2 linked regions of the Homo sapiens genome follow. The protein of the gene in region 2 purifies or fractionates together with the protein of the main gene of each other region. This does not show direct contact. Each region holds a gene or a part of one and is shown on either strand. Other genes may lie near its edges.

Region 1 (7,035 bases), on a different chromosome or scaffold from region 2:
CATGCCACCATGCTCAGCTAATTTTTGTATTTTTAGTAGAGATGGGGTTTCACCATGTTGGCCAGGTGGTCTTGAACTCCTGACCTCAGGTGATTTGCCTGCCTCAGCCTCTCAAAGTGCTGGGATTACAGGTGTGAGCCACTGCGCCTGGCTACCTAATTTTTAGGAGAAGATGAGGAGGAGGATCAGGGAAAGAGGAGGAAGAAGAGAAAGGTGATACACAGAATTGGTAAAACCCTTCTTCAGGATGCCTAGGTACCCTGGTGTCAGATGCAACAACACCACATACAGTATAAAGAGTGAGAAAAGGCACAGAAACCTGGGGTGGCTGCTGTTAATTTCTTTTGCCAGGTCTGACTCAAGATTCTCCTTAAAAATGTCTATATACTTTGGTCCAATAATCCAGTGATATCCAAAAGTCTTTCCAGAAAGGCTTCATGCAGTAAGATGTTCATAAAGCACTATTTATAACAGCAAAAAAAAAAAAAAAAAAAAATGGAAACTAAATGTCCAGTGATTAATCAATGGTTAATTTTACCGTACATTCACTTGGTAAAGTAATAAGTATTCATAAAACCAATGTTTCAAAAACATGTAATCATGAGTAAATGTTTTAGTTATAATACTAAGCAAGAAGAGTCCACACACATATACACACATATGTCTATGTGAAGGATAAAGATACGGCAAAGCACTGCCAGCTGTCGTCTTTGAGTGATATCATAGGCAATGTTTTCTTTTCTCTATTCTTATGTATCTTCTAAGTTTTAAAAAATGAGAATGTAAAAATTTAAAATACAAATGAAGCAATTTGTAAGAAGTGGACAGTTCAGCATATTAAACATTAGTTGCTTTTTCCTGCATTTGCTTTGCCAGTTAAAGCTGTTATATTTACTAAATAAAGTGCCAATTAAAAAAAAAAAGGCAAACACATCTGCTTTACCCATCTCTAGTTTCTACATGCAAAAACGGGAAAAAGATATCTCCTTTTGCTGTGGCCTCTCTTTTAACTCTTTCTCACACCCCTAATGTAGTAATTCTCCTTGTGGGTACCTTCCTGGGGTGATTTGCACAATATTTTTTTGAAATCAACATGAAACCCTTTAGATTATTTCACTTCCTTCCTGACCTTTCAATGAAGGCCAGTTTCCTTCAATGTAAATCAGGAATAATCAGAAAAGACCAATTTGAATTTATCCTTCAGTGGAGATCTAAGAAGTAATCTCAAGGAATGGCTTTCTGCTGTTTGGGAGAAAAGACAGATGGGGTTGAAGTCCTGACTTATCATCAGACCGAAACAGATCGGAAGCAGTGATCAAAATAAAAATCAGCAGGTTGTAAACTTTAGTGGCTATTTCTGAGAATGTGTCCCGGAAAGCTGCAGTGCCTCTGCAGTGCTATTCTGGTGCATCTAGAAAGGAGGGGAAGTCTGTTGCTCTCAGGCGTTTCTGAGTTTTCAAATCCAACACATATCTAGAAGTACCCCTGCCACCCACAACCCCTGCTCCCCCATCGGCTCACAAGCAGGAGAGCTGGATTTGCTGGAGGAGTCACTTGCAAAGCTCTGCCTGGAGCATTCATAGTCACTGAGCGAAGCCATGCTTTCGGAAAACCGGGAAGAATCAGAATCGCTTGGCTGGTCCTCTCCCACACACTGCTTCTCGCCATTGAAGGGCATTTTGCGTCACTTAAGTGTGGGTAAAAAGGTAGCACCTGCACAGACAAACAGACCCTGCGTCAATGTTCTGTGGTACTTCCACAGGCACCACCAATGCTTCTTCCAGTGTAGACAACTGTCCCCACAAGTGTCACTGTGTTGGAAAGGCCCCCAGATGACCTCATCCTTCCCCCAGCACCTTGGCCGGACTAGGCCAGATCACTAGGTCATCGAGATTGCCTTTCTGAAAAGGGATTCCACAGCCATAGGTGTGAGCTTACTCAGGACACACCCACTATAAATGTGAAGCTCTAAGTAATGGCAGGTCCTTTTTAAAAAGATGCAGGACACATGCTCTCTCCTCCTGGGTTGCTGAAACATGAGAAGGCGGGAGTGTGGGACTTGGGTCAGATCTCTCGTTCTGTTCTGCCTTTTGCCATGAGACCTTGGGAAGGTCACTTAACTACCTACCTCATAGTGAAACTGGACTGAAAGACTAACCTCTCATTGGGTTGCCAGAAGATTGAATAGAATTCATCTTAAAGAGCTTGGCACAGTACTCAAATGTTAGCTGCTATTATTGCTCCTATTGCTTTGTTTCAGATAAAATAGCTGTGAAATCAGCCTCTTTACGCTTTCTGTGAACCTCCTGGGGAAAGGGGAAGACCGCATGAAACCTCTGGCTGGCAAGTCTTTAGCTTCTTCCCCCTCCATTTCCACATGAACTGCTGTGATATGAAGATTAAGACCTGATATATGGTTAGGATTTGACAATTTACAAAGTACCCATCACAACCCTATGAGTGCACAAGCATGTAGGATCCTGACTCACAAGTGGGGGAACAGACTCAGAGGGATAAGGGGATTTACTACATGATAAAACCAGTCCCTTGGTGTCTATGTCCAGTGTTTCTGGGACATGAGAATCCTTCCAGGGAAGGGCCGTCAGGTTTGGACACTACCCAGAAAGCAGATCACAGGCACACAGGATGACCAGGCCTTGGTCCCAGGAGCACCAGCCAGGCCCGTGAGGGAGCTGACCTTGATGTGAATATGGTATCACCTGACACTGAAGGGGAAACCCGGGCTCAAGGAGAAAGGCACCTCAAATCCTGGATGGACAATAATGAGAGGAAGAGTTCACTGAATCCTTTTAAACCTAAACCAGCCCATGCAATGAGGGATGCAGTGCTTTTAAAGCGGCCAGAATGGGAAACCACAACTATGTATAGTATGTCTGAAAATGCCTGCAGTTTCTTCAATGATTCCATTAATATTCAACAAGTGCCTACTTGAGCACTGAGCACCGGGGAAAGTAACCAAACAAAGACAATGCCCTATTCTTGTGGTTCTCAAGTCCAGCTACCTAAAACTGTGTACTGAATGCTACTAGATGGGAAAAGGGGGAATAAGGCATTGTTGAGAAAACACAAGAAAGGAGAGGCAGGCTCAGGATTAGCAGAGCGGGAGAAGGGGCACTAGCCTTTGTTGAGAGAAAAAGAGTAATTTTTTTAATTCCTTGGATGGTGATGGGGACAAGGATGAGTCTGAGAGGGATCTAATAAGGGTGAAAGGTCTAAGGTCATTTGCGCCTTGCCTCACCTAAACAACCGTCTTCAATCCTGCCACAGAAATGTATCCTTGCTGAGCCCACCACTTTTGCAAGCAGAAAACCACTAGAGTCCACTTGTGCAGGCTGAAGGGCAAGGAGTGGAGTGGAGACACTCACCTTATCCCAGAATCCCAAAGCCATGAACACTGGCTATAAGATTCTTGAGCCCTTGCATCCTCAGTGGTGAAACAGCCTCCTCTAACTCATGAAGACTAAATTCTACCTGAGCTTAAACTCCAATCTGCTCAGGGGAAGGCGAGAGAAGACAGAAGAAAAGGGGCTACTTCAAACCTTTCACTGCCACCAAACCCCAAATCCTAAATGGAATGTTCACCCTCCCCTCTAGTTTGCTTCCTCTCTTTGCCAACATTTGATGTCCCACTGATGGCATTTCTTGCAAATGCTACCTTCTCCAGGAAGCCTTGCTTCTAGCCAAAGTGAATAGCACTCCTCTTGGTATGTCTGCAGCGCGTCTCCTGTATCTCCATGACAGCGCTTAGTTCCTTGTACATTAGTTCCTTGTTCCTTTCTTCCCATGGCTACTTCTGAATCTCCTTAATAAAGCAGAGTTTGTGTCTTGTCCATGACCAGCGCCAAGTATATGACAAGTATTCATTCAGTGTCAGCTAAATCAGAATCCCTGAATCTCATTTGGTACAGCTTCAACCAGAACATTTGCAACCTGATATCATGACACGTTAACCAGGCTGGTACTGCCAAAGCCCAAGCCTTAGAGCAGAGAATCTACTGCTTAAGCCTATCTTATTAGATTTAAACCTCAAGATTCTCAGGTCCTTGTCATGCTCTTATTTGAATATCTTAAAGTTTGTTTCCACTTTAAGTCATTTTTCCCCCAGTTATTCCCCTGTAATGTAACCGCTGTGCTATGCATGCTCTGCTCTTAATTTTTCTCTACTTCGGTTGCCCTCAAATGAGCTCTGGCTGTTTTTCCAAGTGAAATTGAATAAGAGCTTCCAGCCATGAGAATTTATGAACTAGCTTAATAGTTTTAACTGTCCATTTCATTTTTCTACTTTAGCTGGATAGCACACTTGGTAGGTTTCTTAACTGTGTTTAACAAGGCAGAAAAGTGCAAAGATTAAAATAATTGGGAGTCAGGAGTCCAGGGTTTGTGGCCTGGGTTCATCATTAATGTGCCGTGTGACTTTATGCACATTTTTCTGAGAGGTTGGGCCAGTCATAAGGTTTCTCTCAGCAAGGAATATATGATGCTCCAAACCCAGAGTTCCATGAGGCATCACTAGAAGTTCTGAGAAATTAAATGTGCTTATGGCAGTCATGCTTAACAATGTGAAACTACACTTTCTTCCAGCAATTCACTGGAGGTAGAGTTCCTGGCACAGGGGCTGCAATGGAAAATTTAAAAGCTTCAAAATGTTTAGAAACTCTTGTTTAGTGGGTAGAAGCCTCCACATTACAACTGGGCCTTAGTGTATCCAAACAGAAACCTGTATTTGAAGCCAAAATGCCCATTATTACTCTATTAAAAATTTGTCTGTTTCCTCATATAGGCTTACTAAGAATACCTAATTCATAGGGTTGGTGTGAGATTTCAGGTACCCAATACATGCAGCGTGTTTGGAACAGTCATTGACACAGTAAACAGTATACAAATGTTTTCTATTATTTGCTTTTTTTTGTTAATATCATTGCCTCAGGAATTAAACACTCTGGAGGGAAGAACAGTTTTATGTCAGGATAACACCATATTCTTCAACAGACAAACAAGGCTGGTAGTTAACATAGAACAGAACTCTTGGCACTTGTTTGACAGACAAAAACCAAAAGCGAATGGCCCATCACTGTGTGAATGGTCTTCCGCAAGTTCCTTCATACCTGCTCTTACCTTTCTCGGTCTTGAGTTTCCAAGTAAGTCACCTGGGGACAAACCTACTTGATTCAAAAGGCACTGAGGATATTTAGATTGCTTTAAAAACTATTTTGGATTATCCTTTAGACTGATGATAATGAAACCAGGCTGTATCTTTAAGAAAGGTAATACTCCTTATGCAAACTTAGATCTACCTAACCTTTGCCACTGCAACTCACAAGTAAATCAAACAACTTTTCAGAAACATCACATCTCATCATACCTGGAGGATTTAATCACTGGTCAAAGGTAAAGTCAACAGAAAAGACTGAAGATGACTCCAAGCAAAGCCTCCAACACGATAGCAGGTCACTATTCAAAGAAAAGTACTGTCATATTCACATTTTTGATTGTATTATTCCATCACTTTGTGATAATAAATATAATGTCATTTCTTCTGAGACCATCACTGGAATGCAGCAAGCATTCAAATATTTATTCAAATATTTATTGTTGAATAAATGAATGGTAGTAAGACTACTGACATTTAAGAGGTGTGAATGGGTACAAGGACTTGAAGGGGCTAGTGCTGTATTTCACTACAGATAGAGAGGAGATTGGTTTTTAATTTGCTTGTGATTCCTCAGCTCGTGTGCAGCTTTACTTCCTGATTTCCTTTCTGCAGCAACTCTATCTGCAAATAGTTCTGCACTGGTTCAGAATTGCAAAGATACACTGATGATAATACATGTCACTGAAGCCATAAGAACATTGCCTCTGGAGCTAGGTGGACTGGGTTCTTGATCCCGGCTCCTCTTGATTATTTACTGACTAGAAACAGAGAACTCGCCATTTGTAAAATGGGACAATAATAGTATCCACCTTGTAGAAGTGTTGTGAAGATTAACTGAAATAGTATCTGTCAAGTACTTAAGCTCCTAGTAAGTGCCTGACGGATGTCAACTATTATTTTATTCTTATTAAAAGAAGTTACAAGTTCCGAAAATGTAATGTCATAAAAAACAAAGAAAGGTTGAGAATATGTTCCAAATGAAAAAAAAACACTTGATAACTGAGTGCAATAGGTGATCCTAGAGTGGATCCTATACTGAAGCAAAAATGCTGTAAAGGACAGTATCAGTCAATCAATAGCACTGTTAACAATATTTGAATCTACTGTCTGTTATCCAATGTTAAATATACTGAAGTTGAAATGTACTGTGGTTTTGTATTTAGGAATAAAGGGCCATGACATATACAACTTTTTCTCAAATGATTCAAATGCAAGAGAGAAAAAATAATAAAGCACATAGAGCAAAATGTTAATAGGTGAATCTGAGAAAAAGGTAGACAACATGGTATTCCTTATACTATTCTCACGACTTTATCTGTAAGTTTGAAAGTATTTCCAAATAGAAGGTTAAAAGAGAAGATGACAGGCTGAACTGAAACTTCAAGATTCAAATTCAGAACAGTCCAACCTCTTGCAGTTTTGAAATTCTGATTGTGCCCACTGCTGTGATAGCTTAAATACCACTCTATTACAAGAACTCTTCTAGACAGTCAAACTTGTCCTGATGTCCTTCTTGAACAGTGCCTAAAGAATAAAACAGGAAATAGGCCAGAGCCCTCCAGAAAAGGCAAAATAGATAATCCTTTTTAAGAGTTCATCCCTAGGTGGGTTCCCTTTTCCTAAGTCACTGGGCCATGGTTTACAACCCTCTGTGATCTTAACTCTGCCCACCTTATTCTGCAGTGTTCTCCCACTAACCCTTCATGATCTTCTTTGCGTTCCTCAGACATGCCAAACTTCCTATTTCGGGGCACTCATACCTGCTGTTCTCTGCCCCTGAAATGTTCCTCTCCCTGATCTCCTTGTGGTTGGCTCCCTATTGTCATTCAGATTTGAAATTTAATGTCACCAACTACGAGGTA
Region 2 (4,230 bases):
GGGTGGCTGTGTGTGCGCACAGAGGGCGAACGCTGCCTTCCAGGTTACCGTGGAGCACTGGGGTCAGCATGGGTGTGTTGTGACCTTCTGTGGGTCACGAATGCTGTGTGGAACTCGGTTAATATTCTTTCCCCCTCTAAAATGTCCTGACCTTACATATTTGACCCACAGCTTTAGAGACTTCATGGACAAGCCCCATCCACAGACCTCCAACACTTCATGCTCCCTTTTAGCCAGCATGACCCATCAATAAAGAAGCCCGAAAAATCACAAATTCAGTTGAAAACCCTGACTCAGCTTTCCTAGAATTTAGGAAATCTATACATTGAACGCCTGGCTTTGAAGAAACACTATTTTCCCCTGGTCAGGTTACTTCTGTGGCAGCTGCTTATGTACAGTCCTGCTGCACCCAACCCCACGCCAGCAGGGCAGGCTGGCACCCCACCGCTGTCCATGCAGGCTCTGGGGTCCCACCAGCTCCTGTAGGCAGAGCTAAGCTGCATGACACTCAGAGGTCTTGGTTTTATACAGAATCTTTAATTGCAAACAACTTGAAAGCAGCCATCCTAGGGGTGGCAGGGGAGAACCCACCACACCCTCCCCTCAGTATGCTTCGCCTTCTTCAGCCTCAGCTTCCACGGAATCCACGCCCACCTCTTCACAATCCTTCTCTAGAGCTGCCAGGTCCTCGCGGGCCTCAGAGAACTCTCCCTCTTCCATGCCTTCGCCCACGTACCAGTGCACAAAGGCCCACTTGGCATACATGAGATCGAACTTATGGACCAGGCGGGCCCAGGCCTCCGCAATGGCCGTGGTGTTGCTCAGCATGCACACGGCCCGCTGCACCTTGGCCAGGTCTCCCCCGGGGACCACTGTGGGGGGCTGGTAGTTAATGCCCACCTGCCAGAGAAGGGAAAGAAAGCAGTCCGTGAAGCTTATATCAAACCTAGAAATGGTAGCTACTTCTCCTCAAACAGAAGACACCCTGTAGGTGACACGGAGAATGCTCAGTTCACCTCACAAACGTCACTAAGCCCTTCTCTGCACCAGGCAGGGTGATAGTTCCAGACGAGGAATAGAGAAAGGAACCTTGGAGGTAGCCACCCTGGTGGGATCCCAAGCTACCTAAAGGGCTGTGTCCTAGTACCTGTGACATGTGATAGGTGCCCAGGTGAAGACAGTCTTCCCTCTGAAAATGTATGCTGCTTGTCTTCTTTGTAGATTACAATTAAATTCTGTAGCTAAACTTCTTCCACCCAGATAGATTCAGAGTACACAACTCTTGCCCATGCTATCACAAGGAACATCATACCCACTTCTGACCCACAAAACAAGCCACTGTGGATATGCAAAGGTAGCAGATCATGGGTCAAGAGTCATATGAATGCTGCTACCACAGCAGCAGGAAGTGGTCGAAGTGGTCCATGTGCCTGCCTAAGTAGGGGGTGACATTCCAAGGTGGTAACCAAAGGGGAAGCATTCCAAGTTTCAGAACTCGGTAATAACATGACCTGAGGTCCTGGCAGCAGTGCACAGGGTCAACTAGAGCAGGGATCAGCAAACTCGTTCTATAAATGACAACATCAGGCCAGGTGTGGTGGCTCAAGCCTGTGACCCCAGCACTTTGGGAGACAGGCGGGCAGATCACGTGAGGCCAGGGGTTTGAGACCAGCCTGGCCAACATGGCAAAATCCCATCTCTACTAAAAATACAAAAATTAGCCAGGCGTGGTGGCAGGTGCCTGTAATCCCAGCTACTTGGGAGGCTGAGGCAGAGAAGTGCTTGAACCCGGGAGGTGGAGGTTGCAGTGAGTCAAGATCGTGCCACTGCATTCCAACCTGGACGACAGAGCAAGATTGTCTCAAAAAAAAAAAAAAATTACCCGGGCATGGTGGTACATGTCTGTGTTCCCAGCTACTTGGGAGGCTGAGGTGAGAGAATCGCTAGAGTCTGGGAGGCAGAGGTTGCAGTGAGCCAGGATCACACTACTACAGCCTGAGAGACAAAGCGAGACCCTGTCTCAAAAAATAAATAAATAAATAAAGCTCACCACAGATATATAGTGTGATGACTCAGAAAGAGTTCAAAAGACATCACTGACCTGGGCGCAGTGGCTCACGACTGTAATCCCAGCACTTTGGGAGGCTGAGGCAGGCAGATCACCTGAGGTCAGGAGTTCAAGACCAACCTGTCCAACATGGCGAAACCCCGTCTCTACTAAAAATACAAAAATTAGCCGGGCATGGTGGCAGGTACCTGTAATCCCAGCTACTTGGGAGGGTGAGGCCAGAGAATTGCTTGAACCCGGGAGGCAGAGGTTGCAGTTAGCTGAGATCGCACCACTGCACTCCAGCCTGGTCGACAGAGCAAGACTGTCTCAAAAAAAAAAAAAAAAAAAAAATCACTGAATCAATTATCAACTCTGGTTCACTAACTTATGCCCACATGCCTAGCCCATGGAACAGGGATAGTCTCCCCAAAGGATGTGGGCCTTCAAGGCCAGTGTTATTTTGTGCATCTGCTGCTTGCTGAAAGGCCTCCATGTCACCCAGTCATACCTTAAATCCAGTCGGGCACCAATCCACAAACTGGATAGTGCGCTTGGTCTTGATGGTGGCGATGGCCGCATTGACGTCTTTGGGGACCACGTCCCCCCTGTACAACATGCAGCAGGCCATGTACTTGCCATGGCGAGGGTCACACTTGACCATCTGATTGGCTGGCTCGAAGCAGGCATTGGTGATCTCGGCCACAGACAGCTGCTCGTGGTAGGCCTTCTCAGCTGAGATGACTGGGGCGTAGGTGGCCAGGGGGAAGTGGATGCGGGGGTACGGCACGAGGTTGGTCTGGAATTCCGTCAAGTCCACATTCAGGGCCCCATCAAATCGCAGGGAGGCCGTGATGGAGGACACGATCTGCCCAATCAGGCGATTGAGGTTGGTGTACGTGGGACGTTCAATGTCCAGGTTGCGCCGACATATGTCATAGATGGCTTCATTGTCGACCATGAAGGCACAGTCAGAATGTTCCAGGGTCGTGTGGGTGGTTAGGATGGAGTTGTAGGGCTCCACCACGGCTGTGGAGACCTGGGGGGCTGGGTAAATGGCAAACTCTAGCTTGGACTTCTTGCTGTAATCCACTGAGAGCCGCTCCATGAGCAGAGATGCGAACCCAGAGCCAGTGCCGCCCCCAAAGCTGTGGAAGATGAGGAAGCCCTGCAGTCCTGTGCACAGATCCGCCTGAGAGAAACCAGACAACGTGAGCCAATGCCCGTGGAAGCCACACCACCAACCTCCAACAAGCCAGGGCCGCTTCTCTTTGCCTCTAAAGAGTTGATATGGATTCAAATCATCCATAATAAACATGCAATACACTTTGAAGCAAAGAAAAGCAAAGATCTACGGACAAATCACCATTGCAGACTCAGTAGGACTCAAGATGCTGGTCTAAGTTTTTGCTTGTTTGTTTGAGACGGAATCTTGCTCTGTTGCCCAGGTTAGAGTGCAGTGGTGCAATCTCAGCTCACTGCAACCTCCACCTTCCGAGTTCAAGCAATTCTTCTGCCTCAGCCTCTCAAGTAGCTGGCAGTACAGGTGTGTGCCACCACACCCAGCTAATTTTCGTATTTTTAGTAGACATAGAGTTTCACCATGTAGGCCAGGCTGGTCTCAAACTCCTGACCTCAGGTAATCCACCTGCTTTAGCCTCTCAAAGTGCTGGGATTACACGTGTGAGCCACCGCGCCCGGCCAAGATGCTGGTCTAAGTGTTGATAAAATGACTTCCCTTTCACATTCCAAGAACTACCCCTCCCATGCAAGACAATGGCCACATGAAACCTTCTCTTCTTACCAGTTTGCGGATCCGGTCCAGGACTAGGTCAACAATCTCCTTGCCGATGGTGTAATGGCCCCTGGCGTAATTACTGGCTGCATCTTCCTTCCCGGTGATCAGCTGCTCTGGGTGGAAGAGCTGCCTGTAGGTCCCTGTGCGCACTTCATCTGCAAAAGAGACAGTGTGTACTGTGAATTTTTAAGGCCTGTACTCACCAAGATGGACACATTCCAGGAGTGTTCACTTCTACAGAGCACATGCTGTTCAAAGTACATGACCTACATGTCATAGGTCAACAGTGGCAGTGTCTGGTAGAAAATGTCTCTGTGTGATAACCAAACTGCATATGCAATTTATGACTCTACGACGTTAAACTCAGCTTGTGGTATAAATGTCA

The links. Proteins that work in one complex are often made in the same cells at the same time.
Region 1: the proteins of TUBA3E (region 2) and TCP11L2 purify together in Homo sapiens (affinity purification with mass spectrometry; 3 studies listed by BioGRID and IntAct, with this or other methods). This does not show direct contact.

Annotation. Positions count from the first base shown.
Region 1 is NC_000012.12:106,305,719-106,312,753, reverse strand, and holds part of TCP11L2 (T-complex protein 11-like protein 2), read right to left. Parts: intron 5,473-7,035; exon of another isoform or gene 5,384-5,472; intron 3,824-5,383; exon of another isoform or gene 3,677-3,823; intron 1,714-3,676; 5' UTR 1,679-1,713; coding exon 1,522-1,678; intron 462-1,521; exon of another isoform or gene 320-461; intron 1-319. UniProt on the Homo sapiens protein: Promotes the migration of muscle-derived satellite cells (MDSCs) during differentiation throught interaction with FMNL2 and therefore may participate in microfilament assembly.
Region 2 is NC_000002.12:130,191,228-130,195,457, forward strand, and holds the end of TUBA3E (tubulin alpha-3E chain), read right to left. Parts: intron 4,001-4,230; coding exon 3,852-4,000; intron 3,240-3,851; coding exon 2,559-3,239; intron 901-2,558; coding exon 604-900; 3' UTR 518-603; downstream 1-517. UniProt on the Homo sapiens protein: Tubulin is the major constituent of microtubules, a cylinder consisting of laterally associated linear protofilaments composed of alpha- and beta-tubulin heterodimers.